4 linked regions of the Homo sapiens genome follow. The protein of the gene in region 4 interacts with the protein of the main gene of each other region in a biochemical or structural test. Each region holds a gene or a part of one and is shown on either strand. Other genes may lie near its edges.

The links.
Region 1: the proteins of EP300 (region 4) and CITED2 form a complex in vitro, tested with the Homo sapiens proteins (5 studies listed by BioGRID).
Region 2: the proteins of EP300 (region 4) and PPARG form a complex in vitro, tested with the Homo sapiens proteins (6 studies listed by BioGRID, with this or other methods).
Region 3: the proteins of EP300 (region 4) and CARM1 form a complex in vitro, tested with the Homo sapiens proteins (5 studies listed by BioGRID, with this or other methods).

Annotation. Positions count from the first base shown.
Region 1 is NC_000006.12:139,371,631-139,378,734, reverse strand, and holds CITED2 (cbp/p300-interacting transactivator 2), read left to right. Parts: upstream 1-4,086; 5' UTR 4,087-4,322; intron 4,323-4,372; exon of another isoform or gene 4,373-4,471; intron 4,472-4,521; exon of another isoform or gene 4,522-4,596; coding exon of another isoform or gene 4,597-4,603; intron 4,604-4,782; coding exon of another isoform or gene 4,783-4,790; coding exon 4,791-5,603; 3' UTR 5,604-6,928; downstream 6,929-7,104. UniProt on the Homo sapiens protein: Transcriptional coactivator of the p300/CBP-mediated transcription complex. Acts as a bridge, linking TFAP2 transcription factors and the p300/CBP transcriptional coactivator complex in order to stimulate TFAP2-mediated transcriptional activation.
Region 2 is NC_000003.12:12,284,840-12,292,089, reverse strand, and holds the start of PPARG (peroxisome proliferator-activated receptor gamma), read right to left. Parts: upstream 3,021-7,250; 5' UTR 2,956-3,020; intron 1-2,955. UniProt on the Homo sapiens protein: Nuclear receptor that binds peroxisome proliferators such as hypolipidemic drugs and fatty acids.
Region 3 is NC_000019.10:10,874,533-10,881,557, forward strand, and holds part of CARM1 (histone-arginine methyltransferase CARM1), read left to right. Parts: intron 1-7,025. UniProt on the Homo sapiens protein: Methylates (mono- and asymmetric dimethylation) the guanidino nitrogens of arginyl residues in several proteins involved in DNA packaging, transcription regulation, pre-mRNA splicing, and mRNA stability.
Region 4 is NC_000022.11:41,095,592-41,102,616, reverse strand, and holds part of EP300 (histone acetyltransferase p300), read right to left. Parts: intron 1-7,025. UniProt on the Homo sapiens protein: Functions as a histone acetyltransferase and regulates transcription via chromatin remodeling. Acetylates all four core histones in nucleosomes. Histone acetylation gives an epigenetic tag for transcriptional activation.

The sequences.
Region 1 (7,104 bases), on a different chromosome or scaffold from region 4:
CTCCCCAGTATCTAGGACTACAGGTATGCACCTCCACACCCAGCTCATTTTCTAATTTTATTTTGTTGAGACAGGATCTCAAGATGTTGCCCAGGTTGGTCTCGAATTCCTGGGCTCAAGTGATCCTCCCACTTCAACCTCCCAAAGTTCTGGGACTACAGGTGTGAGCCACTGCACCTGGCCTACCTCCAGCCTTGAGAGTGACCTTCTCCAGAAAGTCTTCCTTGGCCCCTCATTGGGGTTCCCATAGTGCCAATGCCATATTTTATTCATGCATTCACCCTTCAATTAGTAAAAGTCTAATACCTGCCAGGACTTGTTTCAGACAGTGAATGAACAACCAGGCTAGGTCTCTGCTCTCATGGAGCTGTCATTCTAATGGGGAAGGCAGTAAACTGTCAATTTACCATGCAGCATGTCAGGTAGGAAGATACTCTAAGATGAAACATAAAGCAGGGCAAGGAAACAAGAGAGATATTGCTATTTGGGTAGGACAGTCAGGGAGAGTTTGTTGAGGTGATATTTGAGCAGAGACATGAAGAAATGAGAATATGGGCCAGTAGGACGTCTGGGAAGACAGTTCCAGGTGGCAACTTTCTTTGTCAGCAGCAGGGGTCTTGTATTACTCAGTTTATTTACCACTGTTATTAGTCAAATTGTGTCCCCGCAAAAATATCTTGGAGATATGTTGGAGTTCTAACCTCCAGAATATGACCTTCTTTGGAGTCAGGAGCTTATAGAGGTGATCAAGTTAACATGAGGCCAGTAGGAGAAGCCCTAATCCAAAAGGACTAGAGTCCTTGTCAAAAGGGGAACTTTGGACACAGAGATACACATACAGGGGGGCGGGGGGTGGAAAACGTCACATGAAGATGAAGGTGGGGATCAGTGTGATGCATCTACAAGTCAAGGGACACCAAAGATTGCCGGGAAACCACCAAAAGCCAGGAAAGAGACACGGAATAGATTCTCTCTCACGGTCTTCAGAACCAACCCTGCCAACAACTTGGCCTTGTACCTCTAGCCTCCAGAACTGTGAGACAATAATGTTTTGTTGTTTAAAGCTTGATCAGCCTTAAGTTTGTATTAGACTGGTGCAAAAGTAATTACAGTTTTCGCCATTGCTTTCAATGGCAAAAATCACAATTACTTTTGCACCAACCTAAATAGTACTGTGTTATGGCAGCTCTGGGAAATGAATACAACCATTCAGTGCTGTGAGGGCCACAGACAGATCACTTGCTCGCTCACCCAGGTTCACGGGATAAACCCTGGTTATACGGAACTTCTGGGAGCCCTGGGTTACTGTAAGTGCCCCCTAACTGGACTCCCTGTTTCCTGTCTTACTTTCTCTAACCATTCTCCACAGTACTGCCCTGATCTTTCTAAAATCCAAATCTTTCCTATCTCATGGCTTCACAAGCTTTTACCTGCCTCCCAATGTCTTTGGGATACAGCAAAATTTCTCAGCTTGAGGCCACAATGCCCTTGGCATCCGGCCCCAGCATATTTCTCCAACCTTATTTCTCTCATCTTTGCATTCACTCCCTAGCCATACATTTTCTACCCCACTCCTAATGGGACCAAACTTCCATTCATCCTGAGGCCTCCACTTAGTCACCATCTCCACCGGAAAGCCTTCCCAAAGCACCCAGGAGGGGGGTAGGTGTCCCTCCTATGTGCTCTCCAAAGCCCTTTCCTTCAATGCCTTTGTGGCATTTATCACAGTGTGTTCAAGGCCTGTTTGTCAGTTTTCTCCCTGTGACCATGAGTTCCTATCTTGTTTGTATCTCCAGGCACCAAGAAAGCACTTGGCACTTGGAGGACATTCAGTGGACGGATGAGAATAAATGAACAAAGCATGCCATGTTCCAACCAGCTGGTCCCAGAACTATTTTGTTCTCCTTTAAGGGATGGGGGATGGGCAGGTGACCTTTCCAGGGATTTCCCAATAGTAGGTAGAACCACTGGAGCTGGATGGAGCTCCACCTTTCCTTAGTGGTTGCAAGAGGAATTTAGATTAGACATTCAAAAGCTGTTTCTTGTGTCGAAAGACACTTGCAGTACAAAGAAGGGAAAGTAAACAATCCCGCGATTTTTCAGGTTGGGTTTTACCAATATTTTAGAATCTGTTTTTTTATAGGAAGTGGCCCCTTCAGGTATCCAAGCCTCTGATACGGTAAACTGCATGTCCTGACCTACAGGTAAAGGTGGTGGGAGGTTAGGAGAATAGGGAATTGTTGCAACTAACAATGCAATGTGTCATGTGCCCGTATCTCTAAAAAGTAAATATTTTTGAGGTTTAAAAATTATTTGCCTGCACGGTTTGCCGGAGAGCCTGGAAGAGGAAAGAAGACAAGACACAAAGTAACAACATTTACAAAAATATGCCTGACTAGGAAAAGACAGAGGGGTCATAGACGAAAATAATCAGGATTGGGTCTCTTTTGCAAATTCCTGAACGGGGAAATGTATCAGAATTTCCAGTCCTCAAGAAACAGGGCCTTTAAAAGTCTTGTGTGCAAGAAGGGGGAAAAAGACGAGGGGGGGGCGGGGAGGCGGACTCGCTCTTCGCAGCAGGAAGTCTTCAATGGCTATCGAGTTATGAAGAAACAACTGCCCAGAAGTCCTTATTCGGAGCGCTAAACTCGATTTTACCACATAAAGAGCAATGTAAAAGCTCAGAACAGCCCCATCATGGTGTTGGGGAAACAACTCGGCTTCCCCATGTGAGAAAGCCAGAGAGCTCCGACTTGGTAGTAGCCCAGACCTGTGTTAGGGGTTTTATTTGCAAGTCAATGAACCAAACGGGCGACCAGGCTCGTTGTGCCGCGTTGTGGAAGCAAGGTTATTATTATCGCCCATTGCCCCACTGAACAATTTCACTGAAAAGGAAGAGTCCCAGCCGTGTGTGTGCGCGTGGTGCCATACGGGACGTGCAGCTACGTGCCCACCTCCAGAACGACTTTATTTACAAAGCGATTACCACGTTATCTATTTGTTTTCCTTTTCCAGCAAGAGCAGCCTTACTCAGCCCTCAAATTTCTTAATTACAAACCCGTTTGCTTCTAAATCAACCCCAAACCGTCAGGCAGAGCCCGGAGGGAGGCTCTGCAAGTTTGTACACACCCCCACCTCCCGGATCCAGGGCAACAGCAGAAGCAAGTAACTGTGTATGTGCAAAAAGGTGGATCTGGGGACGAGGATCGCTGAGTTTGTTTACAGAGCAGAGACGCCTCAGCTCGGATGCCAAAGCTACCAAGAGCTGCAAACGCAAACTTAGCAGAAGCACACGTACCCCGGGAGCGGCAGGCGGGCCCGAAAGCGCGGACTGGAATTCCAGGGCGCGGGAGCGGGGGTGGCCGGGCCCTCGAGCGCGCTCCGTCCACCTGCAGCGGCTGCCCCTCCCCGCCCCCAGCTCCTGTCCTTGAAAGGAGTGGAGGAAAAAAATGCATCTACAAGCGGTGATCTAGAGTAGGTCTACCCACTGCCCGTATGAAAACACAAAGGCACAGCCTAGGAAGGCGCGCTCAGGAAAGGGCGCATTATTTGTCCGGGTCTTTAAAACCCAACTCGAGGAAGCACAGCCATTCTTCGCTGCCTGTGGAAGCTTTTGCAAAACCGGGGAGGCACAAGGGCACTCTGGAGGGCGGGGGGCGCTGGGCGAGTCCCCTTTTCCCGTAGAGAGCGGGGCAGATCGCTAGGTGAACCGAGTGAGAAAGCTGGGGGTGGGGTAGATCCAGCCTGAGGGGGGCGGTGAGCTCTCCTCGTGGCTATCCCGGCAGGCTCTACCTTCGGGCGGGGCGGCAGGGGAGGATTTTCCCCCTGCCTCGGGGGTGGCTGAGCCAACCTCGCGTTTCTGGGCCGGGAAGAAACCAGAGTCGGGGGGCGACGGGGCGACTGGGCGGCCCCCGGGCCCCGCAGCCTCTGCAGCACGTGCCGCGGGCGGCGGGGACGCGGCTCCGGGACCCGGTCCAGGGTGTTCGCGGTGTTCCGGAATCCGCGTCTTGGCGCCGCCCGCCCTGGAGGCTCTCGCTCCGCCTTTCCGAAATGCCTATATTAACTGTGGCCAAAGCCCTAAGAAACACAGCTCATTGTTGGCAGCTGCCGGGCGGTCCTGCCGAGCTGTGAGGGCAACGGAGGGGAAATAAAAGGGAACGGCTCCGAATCTGCCCCAGCGGCCGCTGCGAGACCTCGGCGCCGACATCGCGACAGCGAAGCGCTTTGCACGCCAGGAAGGTCCCCTCTATGTGCTGCTGAGCCGGTCCTGGACGCGACGAGCCCGCCCTCGGTCTTCGGAGCAGAAATCGCAAAAACGGAAGGTAAGCGCGACGGGCGAAGCTGGCTGGGGCTCTTGCCAGCCCAGTCCTCCGAGGGCAGGGTTTGCCCGGAGGAAGAGCGTGAGGCGAAGCTGGGGAATAACAACAGGATGTGCAACAACAGGATGAGGAGGGCTGATTTAATGCCTGAAGTTCGCAGCAGGGCTACGGGGCACTTCCTTTATTAGGCCACTTCGGGGAGCAAAGGGGGTGTGGGCTCGGGTCCCCCCGCCCGATCGCAGGGGAAGGGGCTGTTTGTGCAGCGTCCGGCTGTGTTATGAGTGGTAGCTCTTCCGTGGTGGCTAGCCCGGGTGCACAGGCTGTTAGTGGGATCTTGGGGGTGGTGGTTCGCAGCCGACGTGCGCCCGGGAATCCTGGGGGGCAGAGGCGAGCAAAAGTGGGGTGCGCTGTGGTGGGCGACACGTGTGGCGCGGGTCTCATTATCTGCCCTTTTCACTTCCAGGACTGGAAATGGCAGACCATATGATGGCCATGAACCACGGGCGCTTCCCCGACGGCACCAATGGGCTGCACCATCACCCTGCCCACCGCATGGGCATGGGGCAGTTCCCGAGCCCCCATCACCACCAGCAGCAGCAGCCCCAGCACGCCTTCAACGCCCTAATGGGCGAGCACATACACTACGGCGCGGGCAACATGAATGCCACGAGCGGCATCAGGCATGCGATGGGGCCGGGGACTGTGAACGGAGGGCACCCCCCGAGCGCGCTGGCCCCCGCGGCCAGGTTTAACAACTCCCAGTTCATGGGTCCCCCGGTGGCCAGCCAGGGAGGCTCCCTGCCGGCCAGCATGCAGCTGCAGAAGCTCAACAACCAGTATTTCAACCATCACCCCTACCCCCACAACCACTACATGCCGGATTTGCACCCTGCTGCAGGCCACCAGATGAACGGGACAAACCAGCACTTCCGAGATTGCAACCCCAAGCACAGCGGCGGCAGCAGCACCCCCGGCGGCTCGGGCGGCAGCAGCACCCCCGGCGGCTCTGGCAGCAGCTCGGGCGGCGGCGCGGGCAGCAGCAACAGCGGCGGCGGCAGCGGCAGCGGCAACATGCCCGCCTCCGTGGCCCACGTCCCCGCTGCAATGCTGCCGCCCAATGTCATAGACACTGATTTCATCGACGAGGAAGTTCTTATGTCCTTGGTGATAGAAATGGGTTTGGACCGCATCAAGGAGCTGCCCGAACTCTGGCTGGGGCAAAACGAGTTTGATTTTATGACGGACTTCGTGTGCAAACAGCAGCCCAGCAGAGTGAGCTGTTGACTCGATCGAAACCCCGGCGAAAGAAATCAAACCCCCAACTTCTTCGGCGTGAATTAAAAGAAACATTCCCTTAGACACAGTATCTCACTTTTCAGATCTTGAAAGGTTTGAGAACTTGGAAACAAAGTAAACTATAAACTTGTACAAATTGGTTTTAAAAAAAATTGCTGCCACTTTTTTTTCCTGTTTTTGTTTCGTTTTTGTAGCCTTGACATTCACCCACCTCCCTTATGTAGTTGAAATATCTAGCTAACTTGGTCTTTTTCGTTGTTTGTTTTTACTCCTTTCCCTCACTTTCTCCAGTGCTCAACTGTTAGATATTAATCTTGGCAAACTGCTTAATCTTGTGGATTTTGTAGATGGTTTCAAATGACTGAACTGCATTCAGATTTACGAGTGAAAGGAAAAATTGCATTAGTTGGTTGCATGAACTTCGAAGGGCAGATATTACTGCACAAACTGCCATCTCGCTTCATTTTTTTAACTATGCATTTGAGTACAGACTAATTTTTAAAATATGCTAAACTGGAAGATTAAACAGATGTGGGCCAAACTGTTCTGGATCAGGAAAGTCATACTGTTCACTTTCAAGTTGGCTGTCCCCCCCGCCGCCCCCCCCACCCCCATATGTACAGATGATAATAGGGTGTGGAATGTCGTCAGTGGCAAACATTTCACAGATTTTTATTTTGTTTCTGTCTTCAACATTTTTGACACTGTGCTAATAGTTATATTCAGTACATGAAAAGATACTACTGTGTTGAAAGCTTTTTAGGAAATTTTGACAGTATTTTTGTACAAAACATTTTTTTGAAAAAATACTTGTTAATTTATTCTATTTTAATTTGCCAATGTCAATAAAAAGTTAAGAAATAACTTGTTTTCTAGAAGTCATTTGGGGGTGGTTGTTCCCTTTGGTGGCTTTTTTCCCCCCGTCTTTGAGTTGAACACTATTGATGAGAGTAAGCATTCCAAAGGATAAATTACAGGACACTAAAACAGGTCATGATGAGCTTAAGCGGAGAGCAGGATTTAACATAATTGGCATAATGCTTCATTGTTATCATTGTAACATGCCTCTTGGTGTGCTTTAATCAAAAGCTGCAAAGTTGTCACTGCTTTTTTTTTTTTCTTAATTGCCATCATATCAAGTGTACTCCAGAGTTAGAAAGGTTTGCAATACTCAACATTATCTTTTTCAATGGGCAGGAGGCAAAAAAAATCAAGTGTTTCTGTTTATACCTGATTCAACTACTTAAATAGAGGTAGATTGGAATAATACACTGATTGATTGATGGGTGGCATTAAATATAAATCTACCTTTATCTCCAGTGATGAGAGTTTTATTTCTCAGCAAAAGTGCCAAGGATAGGTACATATTTTCTAGCGTAATCTCTGAAACAGTGTCTGACTGGTTTATAGTTCTGAGAAAGATGAGGCAGAATTCCACTTTGAGGCTTTTGTCCTATAATATTTAAAATGTACTCAGGTTGACTCAAAG
Region 2 (7,250 bases), on a different chromosome or scaffold from region 4:
AATCTCAAAGTTATTGAGGTTTGAACTACAGTGAACTATTAACATTGGTAAAAGAGTTAGCTATGACATAGATATTCATGAAGGTTCTTTTCAGAATATCAGCTCAATTAAATTCAGGGTCATGGTCACATCATTTAAAGTACATGGGTTTGCTCATAAAGCCTTAAAATCATAGCAAAAGAGCAAGCAATAATAACTGCAACACTTTCTCCGTTTCAAAGATGACAAAATTGAGAGAAAGGATAAGGTACTTGCCTAAGCCATAATAATTGAAACAGTTGAAAATGTAAACAGTCATACTCTGAATGAAATTCTCGGCATTAAAATATTGATGTGTACTTATTGTTGAAGAGAAATTTTAAAAATATGTAAATCTGTTTTTACAAAATAATTTAAACATATACTATTATTGATGACAGATATTATCTAAACATCTACAAAAGTTTTCCCCAAAACATGGCCTATTGCATCTGAATAGATTTTATCCCAAGAACCTACTTTAAGTGCATTAAATAAAATTTAAAACATGACATTTTAGTTAAATAACAGCTTTAAAACATATACTATATTACTCCCCCAATCTACCTCTGTATTTTGAGAAAACGCAAACAGTAAGTAAGAACTTCCAAGAAGATTTCAAATAATCTTAAATCTAAATTTTTGATTTAGAACGCTATGAAACTAACTGAAGTTGATACGCTGGGGATATCTACACTTGCAAGATGGTTGTTCACAACTCTTACTATTCTTTTGTGGAGTCAAATTAGATCCGTTTCAAAGGACCTTTGTAAGCAATTAAAATCACTGCGCTTTTTGTTGCTTTGGGATATTAAGAGAGAGTAAGCAAAGTGGAGATCTACCAGGAAAAATAAGCAAATTAGAAATTCAGTTGTGGGGGGTGCATATGTTTACGCTTACACACTAGTGACTTCACCAAGTTTTCTCTATTAGTGAGTTTTTAAAAATCCTCTACAGCTAATATTTATTTAGTGGAATCCTATGAGACCAAAAACTTCTTCCAGTACATTTGCCACACCTAATGACATACTGTATTTCCAAGTCCAAGTGACAACGAATCCAGCAGAAAGACACCCACAATTAGAATGACCAACTCTGTCCTATGCATTGGGAATATATAGATGCTAGGAAAGAAGTGAAAGTGTGGGCCAGAATGTGTGAAACATTCAGAAAATGTCATTTTAACATATTTTCCTACTTCATGAAAGCCTCTTGTTATTAATAACGATTTTATAACCTGAAAACTAAATGAAATGTATTATTAATACTTGTATATGTTCCACGGTTGTGCCTTTTACACAGCTTTCATGCACATAATTATCTTGATAATTAAGGTTAGTGGCTAACATCCTTATTGTCAGAAAATTACAGAAGAAAAAAGTATTTGTTTATATTTATATAACACTGATTAAAAACAATTCACTACGACCATTAGTAATCCACTTCTAATTCATATTCCTCATGTCACACCTTTTCTCTTGTACACATTTTAAATGTCATAGGAATTTAGAAATATTGCAATTTAAAGCATAATCTAGAATTTTTTTAAAAGTAGTTCTGAAACATACAAAAAAATGAACATTTAGGAAACTAGTCCTTCAAAGAAAATATTATATTTTATCATTAAAAATATCAATCGCAAAAATATTTTCAAAGCACTTAAGTTCAATAAAGAATATGAGGCCGGTGGACATTTTAGTTTTAATTTTAAAAAGAAATTATATTCTTTTTAATGTAAAGAAATGAGAAAACGACATCCAAAAAGTCTTCAGCCTGGGATTCTACAAAACTTTATACCTCACTGATGCCATGGTTTTACAGCAGTTATTGTTTAAGAACTAGAAACAAACTTGTAAATATGAAAAAAGTTTTTGATTTTAAAAAAAACCATCATTAGTGTTTCTCTTTTCCTTCAAGTGAGTTTTAAAAGACTGAGATGGCCACCAGTTGATTCAAAGATCTCTTAAGACATAATTATTAGCAAGTTAACTATCAAATATCATATAATTTAAATCAGGGAGAAAAATTATGTGAAGTACACAAGAAGACAAAAATGGACAGTTTTGTAATACACTTCACTTTTTGGCTGAGACATTACCTTTAAAGTTTCGTATATTAAAGTGAATATTCAAATACACTTTATTTGGAATCAAATAAAGTGTATTTGATTCCAAAGTGAATCTGATTGAAAATATACTACACAAAACTTACTTTAAAACTTGAACAGAATGTTTTGATATATTACTCCAAATGCTAACTGGTAGCATCTATGAGTGTCTTCTGTCAAACTCCCCTAGGAGTGAAAGGTATTTCTTTAAGAGAAAAGCCACAGTGAATGTCCATGCCAGTCCCTATACCAGAAAGGTTTTCTAAATCATCTAGCACCATCAGTTGGTTCTGTTCTCAGTCAGCAATCGATCACTTAGCAATAGACAGAAAGACTGCCATAAAATACCTGAAACCTGTCGAAGATTTGCCCAGGTCCTTTTAAAGAGTTAAGTTATTCATTGTTCTCTTAATAAATCCAGTTAACAATTTGTCTCACGAATGACAGAAACAGTTGGGGTTAAAATAATGTACTTCAAAATCAGAGGTTTTCCAGGAATAGGTATTATACAACTCAGTTTATCATTGTCTGGTTTTATATCCAAATGATAATTTACACAAATAAACTTTACATTTTGTCCCTAATCTTGCAAGGAAAAGAAGAAAAATTTTAGTTTCTTCATGGCAGACGACTATTTTTGACTTGATTTCTTTTATAACAATGACACTATTTTTACAACCGTTAGCCTATGACCCAAGTGAATTGGATTCTTCTTATAAAACAAGAGCACTGCAAAAAAAAATGATATAAGGATAATACAATAATTTTGCAAATTTCGGACCTATCACCAACACATTCCAACAAAATGCAATGAGAGTGAGCCAACTCACCTAAGGAAAGGGAATTAAGCAGAATGCAGAAATGCAGGCTTCTGGTCACCAGCAGAGGTTAAGGCCCCTTCCTTACCTACCACTGACCTTATATAAAAGCCGCAGCTCGGTTACTCCCCGTTTCTGACTCCTTACCTTAGGCTCCTCCCTAAACACCGAGGCGTAAAGTACCACGACTACACACCCACCTTCCACCAAGGGACCTGAGATTTCTGTTAACCTCTGCTGCCTCTACCCCCCTCAGTTAGGCTCCCAGGAGGAGTGGTCAGCGCCTGGCACTTGCAGGAGCCCACAAAGCAGCGACTTCGCCTTTCCAGCCCCCCGGGGTGCGGCTGGGGGTCCTGGCTGCGCGCTCCATCCGCGGAGGCACGGAGGCACCCAGTCCCCGTCCCCAGCCCCTCCGCCGGGCGTAGGGCCAGCACAACGCGTCAGGGCACAGGGCCTGGCCAGCTACAAGCGCGCCCCTCGCTGAACGGTCCCCCGGTCCCCAAGCGGCGGTCGCCCCTGGGCTCTGGACAGCGAACGGGACCTCCTCCTCAGCAGGGGTGCCGCGCGGCCTCAGGACGGACGCACGCGGATCTTCGCTTCCCCGGGTCCAGACACCCTGCTCCAAAGTTCCCCCGGAGCGGCTCCCGACGCTTGCGCACCTCCGCCGGGGACGCGGAGGTCCCCGTGTCCCCGGCTCCGCGCCCACCCGGCGCTCTCCCGAGGGGGGCTGTCCTGGAAGCCGGGACGCACCGGCTCGCGTCCACTCGAGTCGGCACCGGCCGCGGCTCTCTGTGCCCGCGCCCTCCGCCCCTAGTGCGCGCTCCGGTAGACGCGACCCTCAGCCCGGGTGCCCTCAGCCCAAGACCCCTTCACCCGGTCACCCGTGAGCCGCCCGCCCGCGACCCGTCAGTCCGGGTCCTGCCGGACCATGACCCTGCCTCAGCCCCGGACCCCTCAGCCGAGACCCCCTTCTCCCCAGCTCTCATCCGTCTGGGACCCCGTCAGTTCCCGTTTCCTCGGCCCTAGCCCCCAGACCCTCGGCCCCAGCCCTCCGCGCCCCCTCCCTGAGCACTCCCCGCCCAGCCAGCAGCCGGTTCCCGAGCGCCGCGGGCACCCGTACTCTGACCTGCGGCCACGGCGGCGTGGCGCCCCTCTCCGGTGTCCTCGAGGCCGACCCAAGCGCCCCAGGCGGCGGCTGCGGCTCGGGCTCGGGCTCCGAGTGCGCTGGGCCCCGCCTGCCCGCGGCGGAGCCGGGTCGGGCCGAGCCGGGCCCGGCGCGGGGGCGGGCGCGGGCGCCGGCTGGGGGTGGGGGTGGGGGTGGGGGTGGGGGCGGGGGCGGGGGCGGGGGCGGGGGCGGCGGCGCGCGACTGGGAGGGAGCGGCCCGGGCTCGGCCGCCGCCCGCGCACAGTAGGGCCCACGGCGGGAGCCACCGGCTTTCCCGCGTCCACTCTCTGCCCCGCGGCAGGCTACCTGGTGTCGTTTGCTCCTCGCCACCACCGCTGGGAGGCGGCCCAGAGAGGGTCCCATTTCCGAGGAGGGATCCGAAGTTTAGGGGGATGCCCCCGGCCAGGGCCGGTCTGGGGAGACCGAGGTGTGGGGCTCCCTCTCGGCCAGAGTGGCTTGCCCTTCACACGGCGATCGGCCAGGCCGTCTTCCCAAGATGTTCTTTCCAGTGACATTTTAAAAGAAAATTTAATTAAAGCATATTTCGGGTCCCTTGGTTTTCTCTTCTGATCGGTGGTGCTGCACACTTTCAGAGTTCCTTGCGTTTGTAAGTTACATGGTTATTCACAAGTCACTGACTTTTAATCATTAAAAACATTTCTTAAACTCATTAACAGAATTTCTTAAATTTCTTAGCAGTGTTTCTGACACCGAGGGACTCAGACAACATGGGTGGGGACGGAGTGGGGACGTGAGGCACGAGAAACAGTTTCTCATGTGTTGGGTAGACAGTGACCTTTTCTTTTCCTGCCACGCTGTCCATCGTGACCTGTCCAAAGTGGGTTGGCAGGTGCGCGTTCAGAAAGCCGCTGGTCTCCTGGACTTGAGGCCCCTCTTTCCCTTTTTCCAGTCTTATTTCTGGAGCATACTGTTCTGGGCCTGATCCTCTTTGGGGAGGCAGCGATGCCTGAGGCCCCCCACTTCAGGAAGCTTATGGACTGTATGCTGGGGTGCTCTGCATTTCTTCCTAGCTTCATTGTGGTTATTGCCCCTCTGGTACAGAAGGTCCTCGTTTGTGGTTGAAGCAAAGTTTTGCGAGGATGGGTATCACAAGGGAAAATATTCAGCGCTTAAATCAACATAATCATGTCCTTCCTCCACAGCCCCTAAGATAAGAAGCTGAGAGCCACGGATCTTACAGGGACTGACCACTGAAAGACCATTTATTGGCCTGTGATTTAGGTAGTCAGGTTGACCCGGATCCACAGTCTCCACTCAGGCGGAAGTGCTCCGTGCGTCCTACTTCTTGTTAATTCCAGAGTTCCAATCTGCTTTTTTTTTTTCTTTCTTCCTTTCTTTTCTTTCTTTCTTCCATGAGACAGGGTGTTGCTGTGTCGCCCAGGCTGGAGTGCTGTGGCGCAATCACGGCTCACTTCAGCCTCGACTTCCCGGGCTCAAGGAATCCTCCCACCCCAGGCTCCCAAGTAGCTGGGACTACAGGTGCACACCACCATGCCTGGCTAATTTTTTTTTTTAATTTTAATTGTTTAGTAGAGACTGTGTCTTGACATGTTGCCTAGACTAGTCTGAAACTCCTGGGCTCAAGTGATCCTCCTGCCTCAGCTTTCCAAAGTGCTGGGATTATAGGCACCAGCCACTGCGCCTAGCCTGCTTTTTAAAATCACAGCTTTATTGAGGAATAATTAATATAATCTAAAATGTAAATACCATAGAAGTAAAATGTACAATTCAGGCCGGGTATGGCAGCTCACGCCTGTAATCCCAGCACTTTGGGAGGCCGAGGCAGGTGGATCACTTGAGGCCGGGAGTTCAAGACCAGCCTGGCCAACATGGTGAAACTCCATCTCTACTAAGAAATACAAAAATTAGCTGGGCGTGGTGGCACGTGCCTGTAATCTCAGCTACTCGGGGGGCTGAGGCAGTAGAATCGCTTGACCCTGGGAGGCAGAGGTTACAAGCCGAGATTGCGCCACTGCACTTCAGCCCCAGAGCAAGACTCCATCTCAAAAATAAATAAATAAAATGTACAGTTCAATGAGTTTTAGTTTATTGACAGAGTTGTGCCATCATCACCAAATCTACCCTTAGAACATTTTCATCACTCCAAAAAGGAACCCCCTCTCCATTAACAGTCATTCCACCAACTCTAGATAGAGATATTCTTTCTCTATAGATTTACCTATTCTGGACAATTCATATAAATAGAATCATAGAATATGAAGTCCTTTGTGACTTTCTTCTTTCACTTAGCATAGTATTTGTGAGGCTCATCCATGTTATAGCTTATATTAATATTTCATTCCTTTTTATGGTCAATATTCCATTATACACATATACCACATTTTGTTTATTCATCCCATGAATTGATGAATATTTAGGTTGTTTCTACTTTTATGGGCTATTATGAATAATGCTGCTGTGAGCATTCATGTACAAGGTTACTTGTGGACATATATTTTTATTTCTCTTGAGTATATACCTAGGGACAGAACTGCAGGATCATAAGGTAACTCGGTGTTTTTGAGGAACTGCCAGTCTGTTTTCCAAAGTGGGCACACCATTTTACAATCCCACCAGCAATGTGTCAGGGTTCCAGTTTTTCCACATCCTTGTCAACACTTGTTATAGTCTTTTTTATTTTAGCCAACCTAAAGGGTATGAAGTGATATCTCATGGGGTTTTGTTTGTTTGTTTGTTTTGAGACAAGGTATTGCTCTCTCACCCAGGCTGGAGTGCAGTGGTGCAATCATAGTTCACTGCAGCCTCGAATTCCTGGGCTAAAGCAATCCTCCCACCTCAGCCTCCCAAGTGGCTGGGACAACAGGTGCATGCCACCACACCAGCTAATTTTTGTATTCTTTTGTAGAGATGGGATCTCACTATGTTGCCCGAGCCGGTGTCTCATGGTTTTGATTTGCATTGCCTTGGTGACTATCCCGTTGAGCATCTTTTCATGTGTTCATTGGCCATTTATCTTTTTTGAAGAAAGTCTGCTTAAATCCTTTCCCTGTTTTTAAATTGGATTATTTTTCTTTCTATTGTTGAGTTGTGAGAGTTATTTATTTATATAGTCTATATCCGAGTCTCTTATCAGATACATGATTTGCCAATATATTATTCC
Region 3 (7,025 bases), on a different chromosome or scaffold from region 4:
CAGGCATGTGCCACACCCAGCTAATCTTTCATATTTTTTGTAGAGAAAGGGTTTTCACTGTGTTGGCCAGGCTGGTCTCAAACTCCTGGGCTCAAGTGATCCTCCCTCCTTGGCCTCCCACAGTCCTGGAATTACAGGCATGAGCCACCGCACCGCCCTCTTTATCCTTAAGTAACATTGATATGGAGATAAAAAACATGGGTTCTTGGCCAGGCGTGGTGGCTCACACCTGTAATCCCAGCACTTTGAGAGGTTGAGGCAGGCGAATCACTTGAGGTCAGGAGGTTGAGACCAGCTTGGCCAACATGGCAAAATCTCGTCTCTGCTAAAAATGCAAAAATTAGCCAGGTGTGGTGGTACCTGCGACTGTAGTCCCAGCTACTCCGGAGGATGAGGTGGGAGGATCGCTTGAACCAGGGAAGCAGAGGTTACAGTGAGCTGAGATTGCACCACTGCATGTCAGCCTGGGTGACAGAGCAAGACCCTGTCTGAAAAAAAAAAAAAAAGCATGGGTTCTGGAGTTGGAGGTGATCAGTGCTGGGTGTATTAATTTCCCATGGCTGCAATAACAAATTATGACAGATTTTTGGTTTAAGACAACAGGAATGGATTCTCTCTCAGTTCATGGTCAGAAGTCTGAAATCATGGTACTGGCAGGGCCACAATCCCTGGAGAGGTTCTACAGGAAAATCCTTGCATCTTCCAGATTGCAGTGGATCCAGCTGTTGCTTGATTTGCAGCAGCGAAACCCAAGTCCCTGCGTCTGTCTTCACTCCTGTGTCTTGTGTCCTCTTTTTTCCTTTTTTTTTTAAAGTGAGATGGAGTCTCGCCGTGTTATAGGCTGGTCTCGAACTCCTAGGCTCAAGTGATCCTCCCACCTCAGCTGTTCTTTTCTTTTCTTTTTTTTTTTGAGACGGAGTCTGGCTCTGTCACCCAGGCTGAAGTGCAATTGCGCGATCTCCGCTTACTGCAAGCTCTGCCTCCTGGGTTCAGGCCATTCTCCTGCCTCAGCCTCCCGGGTAGCTGGGACTACAGGCGCCCGCCACCACGCCCGGCTAATTCTTTGTATTTTTAGTAGAGACGGGGTTTCACCGTGTTAGCCAGGATGGTCTCCATCTCCTGACCTCGTGATCTGCCCACCTTGGCCTCCCAAAGTGCTGGGATTACAGGCTTGAGCCACCGTGCCCGGCCCCAGCTGTTCTTTTCTTATAAGGACACTGGGCATTGGATTTAGGGCCCACTTTATATCTAGGATGATCTCATCTCAAGATCCTTATCTGCAAAGACCCTATTTCCTAATAAGGTCACCTTCACAGATTCCAGGGGTTACAACTTGGATGTCTGTCTTTTTTTTTTTTTTGAGATGGAATTTTGCCCAGGCTGGAGTGCAATGGCGTGATCTCGGCTCACTGCAACCTCTGCCTCCCGGGTTCGAGCGATTCGCCTGCTTTGGCCTCCCAAAGTCCTGGGATTACAGGGATTAGAGGCATGTGCCACCATGCCCGGTTAATTTTTTTTGTATTTTTAGTAGAGATGGGGTTTCTCCGTGTTGGTCAGGCTGGTCTCGAACTCCTGACCTCAGGTGATCCGCCCACCTTGGCCTCCTAAAGTGCTGGGATTACAGGTGTGAGCCACCGCCACCAGCCTCACATATGGCTAATTTTTAAGTTTCTTCTAGCGATGCGGTCTCACTATTTTGCCCAGGCTGGTCTTGAACTCCTGGGCTCAAGCAGTCCTCCTGCCTTGGCCTCCCAAAGTGCTAGGATTACAGACGTGAGCCACTGCGCCCGGCCAATAAATATTTATGTCCATGTTACTGACAGCAGTGTTCGTTGGTGTGGCATGGGAATGAGCTAGCTTTTCTAGGAGGAGCCCCCTATGCTCCAGGGCTGCCCCGCTGTCTTGGCTCACCGGCCATGGGAGGGAGTCCTGGGCCATGATCTGTACCTAACATAGGAGGCCCAGGAGAGGCACGTGGGGAGGACTTCCAGCCCTGTTCCTTGACGTCTGCACCCTCCAGGGGAAGGATGACAGCTGCAGAAGGGCCTGTCTCTGTCACTCTGTAGTGAACAGTTACTTCTTGCCATCTGAAGTCACCCTGGCCTACGTCCATGAGATTGGCCAAATGGCAACTACCAACACCAGGCCATTTTCCCTGTGCAGAGGGGGAGGCCCTTTGGCGTGGGCTTCCTGGGCTTGAGGAAGCTTTGGCATGGCCTCTGGAGTTCCTGGGCATAGGCTGCCCTCCCTTGGAAAGGAGGCAGTTTCTCAGGGAGGGGTGCCGGGAAAGAGAACAGAACAAACTCTCACTTCCCCAGCCCTGTGGCGCTCTTTCTGGAAATGACTGTGTCACTTTTCTTTCTTGGTCAGCACGAGTCAGTGTGGCCAGTGCTTTAGACTCTCCCATCCCCTTGGCTCAGAAGCTTACACAGCAGCATGGGCTCCGTCAGGGGCTAAACTTCAGTTTGTGAGGGGCATGCCATGGGGTGGAAAGTTCAGAGAAAAACCCTTTGTCCAAAGAAGGTGAAGAATGGCCTGCTGTCACCGAACCAGGGGCCCTTGTGACTTCCTTTGGTTACACTCCTGGGATCCCCCTGACAGCTGGGGCAGGGGTATAGAAGAGCTTGTTATGTGCCCCATCTTTAGGACATCTCGGTGTCAAGCTGGAGTGACAACAGGGAAAGTTAGTAACCCCAGAAAGGCATTTGTGTTTCAGCGGTGCCTGCGTGTGGCTAATGGATACCGTCATTTATTGAGCATTTATCCCGTACCAGACTGTGCATAAACTTGTGTTGACTCAAAATGCTTGACCTTGGGGGCAGCTAGGGAAAGGGCAGTGATATAAATTAGGCCTATGGGCCACATTGAGCCTGTGGCCTATTTTTATCTGTGTTTGTATTTTATTAGTGAGACAGAGTCTCACTGTGTTGCCCAGGCTGGAGTGCAATGGCATGGTCTTGGCTCACTGTAACCTCCACCTCCCAGGTTCAAGTGATTCTCATGCCTCACCCTCCTGAGTAGCTGGGATTACAGGCCTGTGCCACCACCCTGGCTAATTTTTGTATTTTTAGTAGAGACAGGGTTTCACCATCTTGGCCAGGCTGGCCTCGAACTCCTGACCTCAAATAATCTGCCTGCCTCAGCCTCCCAAAATGCTGGGATTACAGGTGCGAGCCACCGCACCCAGCCTGTGTTTTATTATTTATTTATTTTGAGATGGAATCTCGCTCTGTTGCCCAGGCTGGAATGCAGTGGCGCAATCTCGGCTCACTGCAACCTCTGCCTCCCAGGTTCAAGCGATTCTCCTGTCTCAGCCTCCCGAGTAGCTGGGATTACAGGCACATGCCGCCATGCCCAGCTAATTTTTTGTATTTTAGTAGCTCACTGCAGCCTCTAACTCCTGGGCTCAAGTGATCCTCTGGCCTCATCCTCCCAAGTAGCTGGGACTACAAGCACATGTCACCACCCTTGGCTAATTTAAGCAATTTTTTTAGAGACAGAGTCTTGCTGTGTTTCCCAGGCTGGCCCCAAACCCCTGGCCTCAAACCATCCTCCTCCTGCCTGAGCCTCAGAAGTAGCTGGGATTATAGTCACGAACCGCTGGGCCCGGTGTGGCCTATTTTTGTACAGACAAAGCTAAGAAAGGCTTTTACAGTTTTTGAGAGATTGATTAGGGAAAAAAACTAAAACCCAATCCACAAACAACAATAATCAGTTGAGACCACAGTGTCCTGCAAAACCTGAAATATTTACTCACTGGCCCGAGGCAGGGGAAGCTTGTAGACCCCTGGGATAAATGAATGAGGCAGGCAGGAGTTGGGGTCTGTGGGGAGTTTGGCCCCAGCCAAAAGAGAAACCAAAAAATCCTCAGGCCGAATAGAGCATACTTCTGAATTGTGTGAGCCCCTTGTGCCAATTGTGGCGCTTACTGTATGTTACCACTTACTCTGAAAAGAGTTCTGTGAGGTCAGAGATACCAACCCCAATTTACTGGTGGAAAAACAGAAATGAAAGAACTTGACTGGCCAAAGTGATGTGGTTGGCAGGCAGCAGAGATGGCTTTGGCATTCTGGGTGACTGGATGCCCACCTTAAATGCATATATAAGTGGTTCAGTGACATTTATCTGTTCATCACAAAGACCCAAAGTAGCAGAGGCTTAATTAAACACGATGGCATTTTATTTTTTGTGCTCTAATGCTAAAGTGTGAAGATTGTCAGGTGCCAAAGTCTCCTGGGCTCTTGGAAGTTCCCAGATCCAGGTCCTCCCCCCGGCTTTTTTTTTTTTTTTGAGATGGTGTCTCGCTCTGTTGCCCAGGGGCTGCAGTGCAGTGGTGTGATCTCAGCTCACTGCATCCTCTGCCTCCCGGGTTCAAGCGATTCTCCTGCCTCAGCCTCCCAAGTATCTGGGACTACAGGCGTGTGCCACCACGGCTGGCTAATTTTTGTATTTTTAGTAGAGACGGGGTATCGCCACGTTGGCCAGGCTGTTCTCAAACTCCTGACCTCAGGTGATCCACCCGCCTCGGCCTCCCAAAGTGCTGGGATTACAGGCCACTGCCCCAGGCTGATCCTCCACCATTCTTAAGGTGAGGTCTTGTCCTCAGGTTTCAGCATGACTGCTGGAGTCCCGCCATTACACCCTGGCTTCCAGACAGCAGGACAGAGGAAGGGACAAAGGAGAAAGGGTGCAAAGGTCACATCCAGGTGTTTGTTAAGAAAGGTTCCCGGTAGCTGATGCAAGGTGCTTCAGCTTTCATTTTGTTGGCTAGAATGTAGTCACATGATCACTGCCAGCTGCAAGGGATGCTGGGAAATGTAGTTTTCAATCTGAGCGGCCATGTGCTCAGCTGAATTTAGGGTTCCAGTTTCCATGGACAAAGAGAGAACATACAGGGAGTCACCTTGGCCACAGTGGGTAGGATCTGGACCTGGCCAGAATGTTGGGAAGGACGTTTCTGGGTTATGGAGAGGTGCTCCAGTGGGCCAGGGCTGGAGACAGCCACCTGGCTTGGAGCACAGGGTCCCCTGTGAGGAGTGGAGGGGCTAAAAGTGGAAACAGGGCTGGGTTGGAATCGAGGATTTTTTTGGTTTTTTTGGAGATGAATTCTCGCCCTGTCACCCAGGCTGGAGCACAGTGGCTCAATGTCATCTCACTGCAACCTCTAGCCTCCCAGGTTCAAGTCATTCTCCTGCATCAGACTCCCAAGTAGCTAGGATTATAAGTGCGTGCAACCACACCCAGATAATTTTTGTATTTTTAGTAGATACGGGGGTCTCACCCTTTTGGCCAGGCTGGTCTTGAACTCCTGACCTCAAGTGATCCATCTGCCTTGGCCTCCCAAAGTCCTAGGATTACCGGCATGAGTCACCGCACCCAGCCTCAGGTGAAATCTTAATGGAAGGTGTCCAGTGCTGTGAGCAGCTCCTGGTCACCAAGCACTGGCCCTCTGTGTAGGGGGTCTGGATGAGATGGGTGGGCAAGGCCTTTCAACAGAAGCTGGAGTGTGGTGTGAACTTGCTAATGACTTTGAGATGCCAAGCCTCACACACCTCAGACCAGGTTGGATTTAGCAGGTGGAGAGGCTCAGGAAGACCTCTGTGGCAGGTGTGTCTCCTTTCTGCGGAAACCTGCTGCTTCTAAGGTCTGCTGGAGAACCTGGGAGGTGGTGAGTTTGCAAAGACATCCAGGGAAGCAGCCACTTAAGCGAGGGCAGGATGGAGGGGCCCACCTGGGCCACACCTGGCTGCTTGAGGTGGCGAGTTGAGGCTGGGAGGGGTTTCCATCAGTTCCATCAGCTCAGAGCTAGGATTTTTTTTTCTTCTTTTTTTGAGACAGGGTCTTGCTGTGTCACCCAGGCTGGAGTGCAGTGACACGATCATAGCTCATTGCAGCCTTGAACACCCAGGCTCAAGGGATTCTCCCTCCCTCAGCCTCTCTACAGGCTGGGACCACAGGCGCACATCACCATGCCTGGCTAATTTTTTTTTTTTTTTTTTTTTGTAGAGACAGGGTCTCACTATGTTGCTCAGGCGGATGTGGAACTCCTGGGCTCAAGCGATTCTCCTACCTTGGCCCCCAAAGTGCTGGGATTACAGGTGTGAGTCATGGCAGCCACGGCTCCAGAGCTCGGGTTCTTAATCTGGTCTGTGGATGGCCCCTGGGGGCGGTCCCATGAGCCCCTCACAATTGGACACAGTTTTGCAAAGGGGTAAAAGGACAAGAATCGGTAGCTGTGACTGTGGATGAGCCTCTGAGCTTCACTTTCCCTCCCTGAAAGGGGGTGACAGTGGCACCTCCCTGGAGGTTTTCGTGGAGGGGAGGAAACACATGTAAAATACTTCACCCCAGTTGGGCACAGAGGCTCATGCCTGTAATCCCAGGTTTTGGGAGGCCGAGGCAGCAGGGCGGTTTGAGTCCAGGAATTTACAACCAGCCCGGGAAACACAGTGAAACTGTATCTCTTAAAAAATAATTTAAAAAAATTAGCCGGCATGGTGGCACATGCCTCTAGTCCCAGCTATTCCAGAGGCTGAGGCGGGAGGATTGCTTGAGCCCAGAAGCTTGAGGCTACATTGAGCCATAATCGTACCACTGCACTCCATCCCGGGAAACAGGGCAAGACCTTGTCTCTAAAAAAAAATGCTTCTTGCTTGATGACTTGTGATATATGAAAAGGAAGAAAGAAAAGAAAAGCTTTGCCCTGTGTGCCTGGCCCGAAGTAAGTGCTCCATAAATTGGCCGTGGTGTAGCTGTGGATTCTCTGCACATTTTTCTGTGCAGAACCTCCCCTGATTTCGGTCAGCTTCTCAGAAGGATCTGTGACTGAAAAAGGGTACCAGTTCCTGGAGGACAGCACCTGATTGGGGAGTGGAGTCTGCCCTGGCTGGTAAGGGATTGGGGGCTCTCTGCGCAGGGCCAGGACATCTCTCCAGGGACAGGCGAGAAGCTTTGAAAGGGCAGGAAGGAGAGGGCAGCAAGGTCAGATGCCGTGAGAGGTCAGAGTGAGAGCCAAGGGGCGGTCA
Region 4 (7,025 bases):
TACTTAACTGCCTAAAGCACAATTCTGCCCCATCCATTAAATGGGTAAAATGGAAAGTCTAAATTCCTGTATTATAAGCCCTCCATGATTGGCCCCCTTGCTCACCTCTACAGTCAAGTTTTTGGCTATTCTACCAGTCAGACAGCACTCACAGGTTCCCAGAACAGGATATACCTGGCCTCACACAGTCTCCTTTCTAGCCTGGGCTCATTTTTACTAATCCTATCTCTATCTGTGAGATCCCAAAATCAGACACAATTCCTCAAAGACAGCCACCAGGATAACTACTGGGTTAGGTTCTCCTGTTCCTCCCACTATATACGTACTTCCCAAATACAATGCTGATCACACCAGACTCCGTGAATGCCAGTCTTCTTCCCTTATCTATAAACTCCAGGAAGGAAAGAAGGAACAATGTACAGAGGATAAGTTCCTGGCATACAGAAAATGTTGGCCTAATACAGAATAACTGCCATCTTGTCAACTCTTCTACGCCAGTATTCTTCAAATTATGGCTCAAAAGCCAACAGTGGGTCATAAAAATCAATATAGTAGGCTGCAACCAGTACTAAAAAAAAAAAAAAAAAGAAAAGAAAAAAAAGCAACAGAAAATATGAGAGTATATTACAAGTAATAAGGGTAAGTATTCTTGTGCATTCTTTGAAACAGAGTCTCTAGTGCTACAAGTTAAAGGTAGTTCTTCCTTAAGTGTTGTAAAAAAATTCTTTGGAGCACTGCACTGCTACTTTTCTTCTTCCTCCTTTATAAGAAAGTTTCTTAGAGGCAGGCATAGTGGCTCACATCTGCAATCCCAGCTACTCAGGAGGCCGAAGCAGGAGGATAACTTCAGCCTGGGCAACACAGCAAGACTCCATCTCAAGAAAATTTATTCTTTAAGACCCAGGTGGCTGGGCACGGTGGCTTACCCCTGTAATCCCAGCACTTTGGGAGGCCGAGAAGGGTAGATTATGAAGTCAGCAGATCGAGACCATCCTGCCTAACATGGTGAAACCCCATCTCTACTAAAAATACAAAAAATTAGCCGGGCATGGTGGCGGGTGCCTGTAGTCCCAGCCACTAGGGAGGCTGAGGCAGGAGAATGGCATGAACCCAGGAGGCGGAGCTGGCAGTGAGCCGAGATCGTGTCACTGCACTCTAGCCTGGGTGACAGAGCTAGACTCCGTCTCAAAAAAAAAAAAAAAGATCCATGTAAGAAAATGAAAAATAGAAAAAATTATGCTTAATTGGCCAGGCACTGTGGCTCTCGCCTCTAATACCAGCACTTTGGGAGGCCGAGGTGGGCAGACTGAGGTCAGGAGTTCGAGACCAGCCTGGCCAACACGGTGAAACCCTATCTCTACTAAAAATACAAACATTAGCCAGGCATGGTAGCAGGTGCCTGTAATCCCAGCTACTTGGGAGGTTGAGGCAGGAGAATAGCTTGAACCCAGGAGATGGAGGCTACAGTGAGCCAGGATTGCACCACTGCACTCCTGTCTAGGAAACAGAGTGAGACTCTGTGTCTAAAAAGAAGAAAGAATATGCTTAACACAGTTCTTTATCAAGAAGCCATTCTTAAACATTTCTAACAAGAACAATGTTTTCCATTTTCTCATTATGCCTTAACTATCTGCTGATTTTCATTTCTATTACTTACGTATACAAGACATCTTACATGATAGGATATATAAGATGTCTTGTATACGTGACATGATAATATATATGATATATATATACGTGACATGATACAAGATGTCATGATACTATATATATATGGTTGTCCCTTGGTATCTGCTGGGAATTGGTTCCAGAATCCACTCCCTCCACTGCAGATACCAAAATCTGAGGATGCTCCAGTCCCTGATATAAAGGGGACATGTAGTATTTGCATATAACCTACACACACCCACCCATATACTTTGAATTCTTTCTGGATTATTTACAATACCTAATGCAGTGTAAATGCAACATAAATAGTTGGTGCACTGTATTGTTTAGGGAATAATGACAAGAAAATAAAGTCTGTACATGTCCAGTACAGATGCAACCATGGATTTTTTTCCCCTAAATATTTTCAATCTGTGGCTGACTCCACAAACACGGAACCCTCAGATACGGAAGGCTAACTGTACAGTATTTTTCCATTTTAAGCTCTGTTCCTATATTCTTATACTCCTAGAAAACAACATTTGGATAGATGACATAAGGCTTACTCTTAAGACTCCTCTATGAACATCATGCACTTGGCTTTCTCTTTATCCAGTCTATCTATACAGGAGTTCATCCTTACCCCGTTTCATTTTCTGCCATTTCAAACACCTGTGGTACAAAAATATTACAAAGAAAACTGCAGAAATAAACACTAATTTTTGTTGTTTTAGAAACAGAGTCTTGCTATGTCACCTAGGCTGGAGTGTACAGTGGTGTCATCATAGCTCACTGTAACCTCAAAACTCCTGGGCTCAAGAGATCCTCACACCTTAAGCCTCCCAAGAAGCTAGGACTACAGATGCATGCCACCATGCCTTGCTGACTTTTTAAATTTTTTTTCTAGAGATGGTGGGGGGATGGGGGGTCCCACTACATTGCCCAGGCTGGTCTTGAATGCCTGGCCTCAAGCAATCCTCCTGCCTCAATCTCCCAAAGTGCCAGGATTACAGGCGTGAGCCACAACAATGTTTTAAACTGTGCGCCATTCTGAGTAGCCTGATGAAATCTCACCTGACCGGGTAGTGAATCTCCCCTCCGTCTAATGTATTCACCTGTATAAACTACCAGCCATTTGTCACTTAGTAGCCATCTCAGTTATCAGATTGTCAGACTGACTATGGGGCAGGGCAATGCTTGAGTTTTAAGTAACCCTTATTTTACTTAATGACAGTCCCTAAGTCCAAAAGTAGCAATGACAGCTATATGGATATGCCAAAGAGAAGCTGTAAATTGCTTGAAGGTGAAAGTTCTTGACTTAATAAGGAATGAAAAAAAATTGTATGCGGAGGTTACAAAGATCAAATCTATACATGAAATTGTGAAGGAAAAAAATTCGTGATAGTTTTGCTGTTGTACCTCAAACTGCAAACATCACAGCCACAGTGCATGACAAGTGATTAGTTAAGATGGAAAAGGCATTAAATTTGTGTGTGGAAGACACGGACAGAAACGTGTTCTGACTGATGACAATTATATTCACTACTATACAGGGTTTCAGGTATCCACTGGAGATCTTGGAATGTATCCCGCAAGGATAAGGGGGGACTACTGTATATCCACGAAAAACAAAAACAGGCCGGGCGCGGTGGCTCATGCCTGTAATCCCAACATTTTGGGAGGCCGAGGTGGGTGGATCACGAGGTCAGGACTCCCTGTCTCTACTAAAAATACAAAAATTAGCCGGGCATGGTGCTGCGCAGCTGTAGTCCTAGCTACTCCGGAGGCTGAGCAGGAGAATCGCTTGAAGCCGGGAGACGGAGGTTGTCATAGGCCGAGATCACGCCACTGTACTCCAGCTTGGGCAACAGAGCAAGACTTCGTTGCAAATCAAAAAAACAAAAACAACCCCCAAACCATCTACCACTGCTTTCCTTCTGATATATTTAGCAGTAAAGTTAAAAACAGTTAACAATGAACACATACTACACAGAAGCAAGCATAGTCCTAAGCATCTGATAAAGAGAATTCTCATTTATTCCTAACCACAATCCTGTAAGGTGGGTAAGTAAGGTGGATTCCTATAAGGTGCGCACCCACCTTACAGGGCTGTGGTTAGGAATAAATGTGAGGAGGTTGAGCCAGGTTAAGTATTTGGCCCAAAGTTCACAGTTAATAAATACAAGCCTGGGCTATGAACTCTAGCAGTCTGACTCCAATACTCATTCTCTTAGCTACTCTCTTACTCTTTTCAGTACTTTTAGTTTTACTCTCTCTCTCTCAACAAAATTACTTCTAGGGCCAGGTGCTATGGCTCACGCCTGTAATCCCAGCACTTTGGGAGGCTGAGGTGGGCGGATCACGAGGTCAGTGTATGGAGACCATCCTTGCTAACACGGTGAAACCCCGTCTCTACTAAAAATACAAAAAATTAGCCGGGTGTGGTGGCGGGCGCCTGTAGTCCCAGCTACTCGGGAGGCTGAGGCAGGAGAATGGCTTGAACCCGGGAGGCGGAGCTTGCAGTGACCCGAGATCGCGCCACTGCACTCCAGCCTGGGCGACAGAGCGAGACTCCGTCTCAAAAAAAACAATCACTTCTAATTGCTTTGGGACATTTATAAAAAAGAATCTAGATCTAAAAACAAATTATATCCAAATTGCTCAGAAGAGGCTTAACACCTCAATTATTATTTATCCTCTTAAGCGCTTCTGGGAAAGTGAGCAGTAATTTCCCATGAAAATTTCAAAATGAAACTACCGTCTATTAAGCGAAAAAAAATCACCTGCGAAGTTCAATGTTAAAAAATTTTTTAGCAGGGAGGGGAGAGGGATAGCATTAGGAGATATACCTAATGCTAAATGACGAGTTAATGGGTGCAGCACACCAACATGGCACATGTATACATATGTGACAAACCTGCACGTTGTGCACATGTATCCTAAAACTTAAAAGTATTAAAAAAAAAAAAAATTTTTAGCTGGGCGCGGTGGCTCACGCCTGTAATCCCAGCACTTTGGGAGGCAGAGATGGGAGGTTCACAAGGTCAGGAGATCGAGACCATCATGGCCAACATGGTGAAACCCCGTCTCTACTAAAAATACAAAAAATTAGCTGGGCATGGTGGCAGGCGCCTGTAGTCCCAGCTACAAAGCGAGACTCTGCCTCAAAAAAAAAAGAAAAATTTTAGACTTGGTATAATTGGTTTCATTTGCCCATTAATTTTACTGCTTGCCTCACTTAAAAAAATATTCAACTTTAGAAATCTTCAAAGAAGGAAACCCTAAAATCTGGACAAACATAAAACTAGCATCTTTTACTTTTCCATTAATTGCTGGGTATATGAATTGGCAGAATAACTCTCAAATTGTTTTTGTAAATATACCAGGAAAAAGTATTTTACACTCCCACTTGTATCTGCAACACTCTTCCTACTCTTTTTCTCTTTCCTATTTACCACTTAATGTCCCTACAAATACCACTTTGCATTAATTTTCAACTGTTTCCATTTTTTTGTTTTTATTAAATAAAGAAGAGAGAGAAAAGCAAAGAAAAACACAAAATAATGCCAAAAGGCCACCAAGGCAGAAACCCTTTCCTCCCTCCTCCCTATTATCCATTCACTGGACATGCCAATACAATTCCAACCTCTGCTATAGAAGATGAACTCCTGCTGGAATAAGACCCCCATATTGTAACGCATTCAAGATTTACAACTTAAAAGTCACTTTATCTCACTATCAACCAGAGACAACCTTCTTGAAGTCCTATAAATGAACTTACAAGGCCTTGAGAATAATTGCCAGAAAAACTTAAAGCACTTTAGTAAAATGTTTTGCAATTTAATACTGAGGAGAGAAATGCCTCACTAAATCAGGAGCTATATCTGCAAGACTCCAGAAGCAAACTCTTATGTAAACATTCAAGCCAAAATAAAATAAAACATAGCATATCACAAGTTACAGAGCTGGAAAATAAATGGTCTTGATCAAAATGTTTTGGTTAGGATGACGAACCACTAACACAATGGCATTTTAAGAAAATAGAGCTGACAGCCGGGCATGGTGGCTCACGCCTGTATTCCCAGCACTTTGGGAGGCTGAGGCGGGTGGATCACCTGAGGTCAGGAGTTCGAGACCAGCCTGGCCAAAATGGTGAAATACTGTCTCCACTAAAAAATACAAAACTTAGCTGGGCATGGTTGTGGACACCTGCAATCCCAGCTACTGAGGAGGGTGAAGCAGAGAATCGCTTGAACCTGGGAGGTTGAGATTGCAGTGAGCCAAGATCGAGCTACTGCACTCCAGCCTGGGCAACGAGAGCAAACCTCTGTCTCAAAAAAAAAAAAAAAAAAAAAAAGTAGAGCTGACATTTTAAAAAGCCTTACCACTTCTCCACTGTGTACATTAATCTACTGGTCAAAAAGCAGGTATACTTTACACACTATCTGCCCTGTGTCTTTGAAATGGGGGAAAAACTCAAAAAACAAAAAAGCACAAAACCCAGGGCCACAAAACTGTACCAAGACCAGAAGGATCTTTACCCTACTTAATTATATGCCAGATCCTAAAATCCTATCTTTCCAGGTGCTTTTTAAGTGCATACGGCATTAAGCGTTTACCAAGCAGTGACAAAACGTGTTCACTGAGTAATGAAGACAACAGATGACCCTCATCATTTCCATCACTCAAGATGATCAGAAACAGCTCCAAAAGATATTTCCAGGATTTGCCTAACATTAACTTTTCCAGTCTTTTGGTCATTTTTACAAAAAAAGTTTACAAGTGGCTTTCATAATCTTTTTTTTTTGGAGGGAGAGGGAGAACAAAATGTCATTTCTCAAATGATTTGTTTTACCCTAACCATACCAAATGAAATAAAAATTTCAATGGATCAAATGCAAATACTGAAACAGGAACATAAAGGTGTGAAGGCTACAAATAAGTCTTCTCTTCCCCATCCCAACACGTAAAAGTTGAGTTTAACCTAAGTTATTTGAATCAACCTGGAAATTTTTTAGGAGAATATCTGAGTATTAAACAGCAATTCAGAGGTTGAGATTTAAGTAATAATTTGATTTGTAACACTTTAGCATGTCATCCCATTGGATTCCAGTTTTCTTTCCTTTAAAGCTGACATTAGAACGCTCTTGGTGGATATATTTACATCACGAAATTTGCAAGCCTAAATCACTTTTTTTAAAAAAGTTTTAGGTGCTAGAATTTCGGGCTTATTTCAACCAGTTCTAGACAAAAACCATAATATCAAGAAATAATTTTCTTTCACATTTATAAAATACCCAAGTGACAACTCAAAAATCAAAAGTTACAAGTTTGAAACTTAAAAGTTTTAAGAGGTGATGTGCCTCCAATAAAAGTTA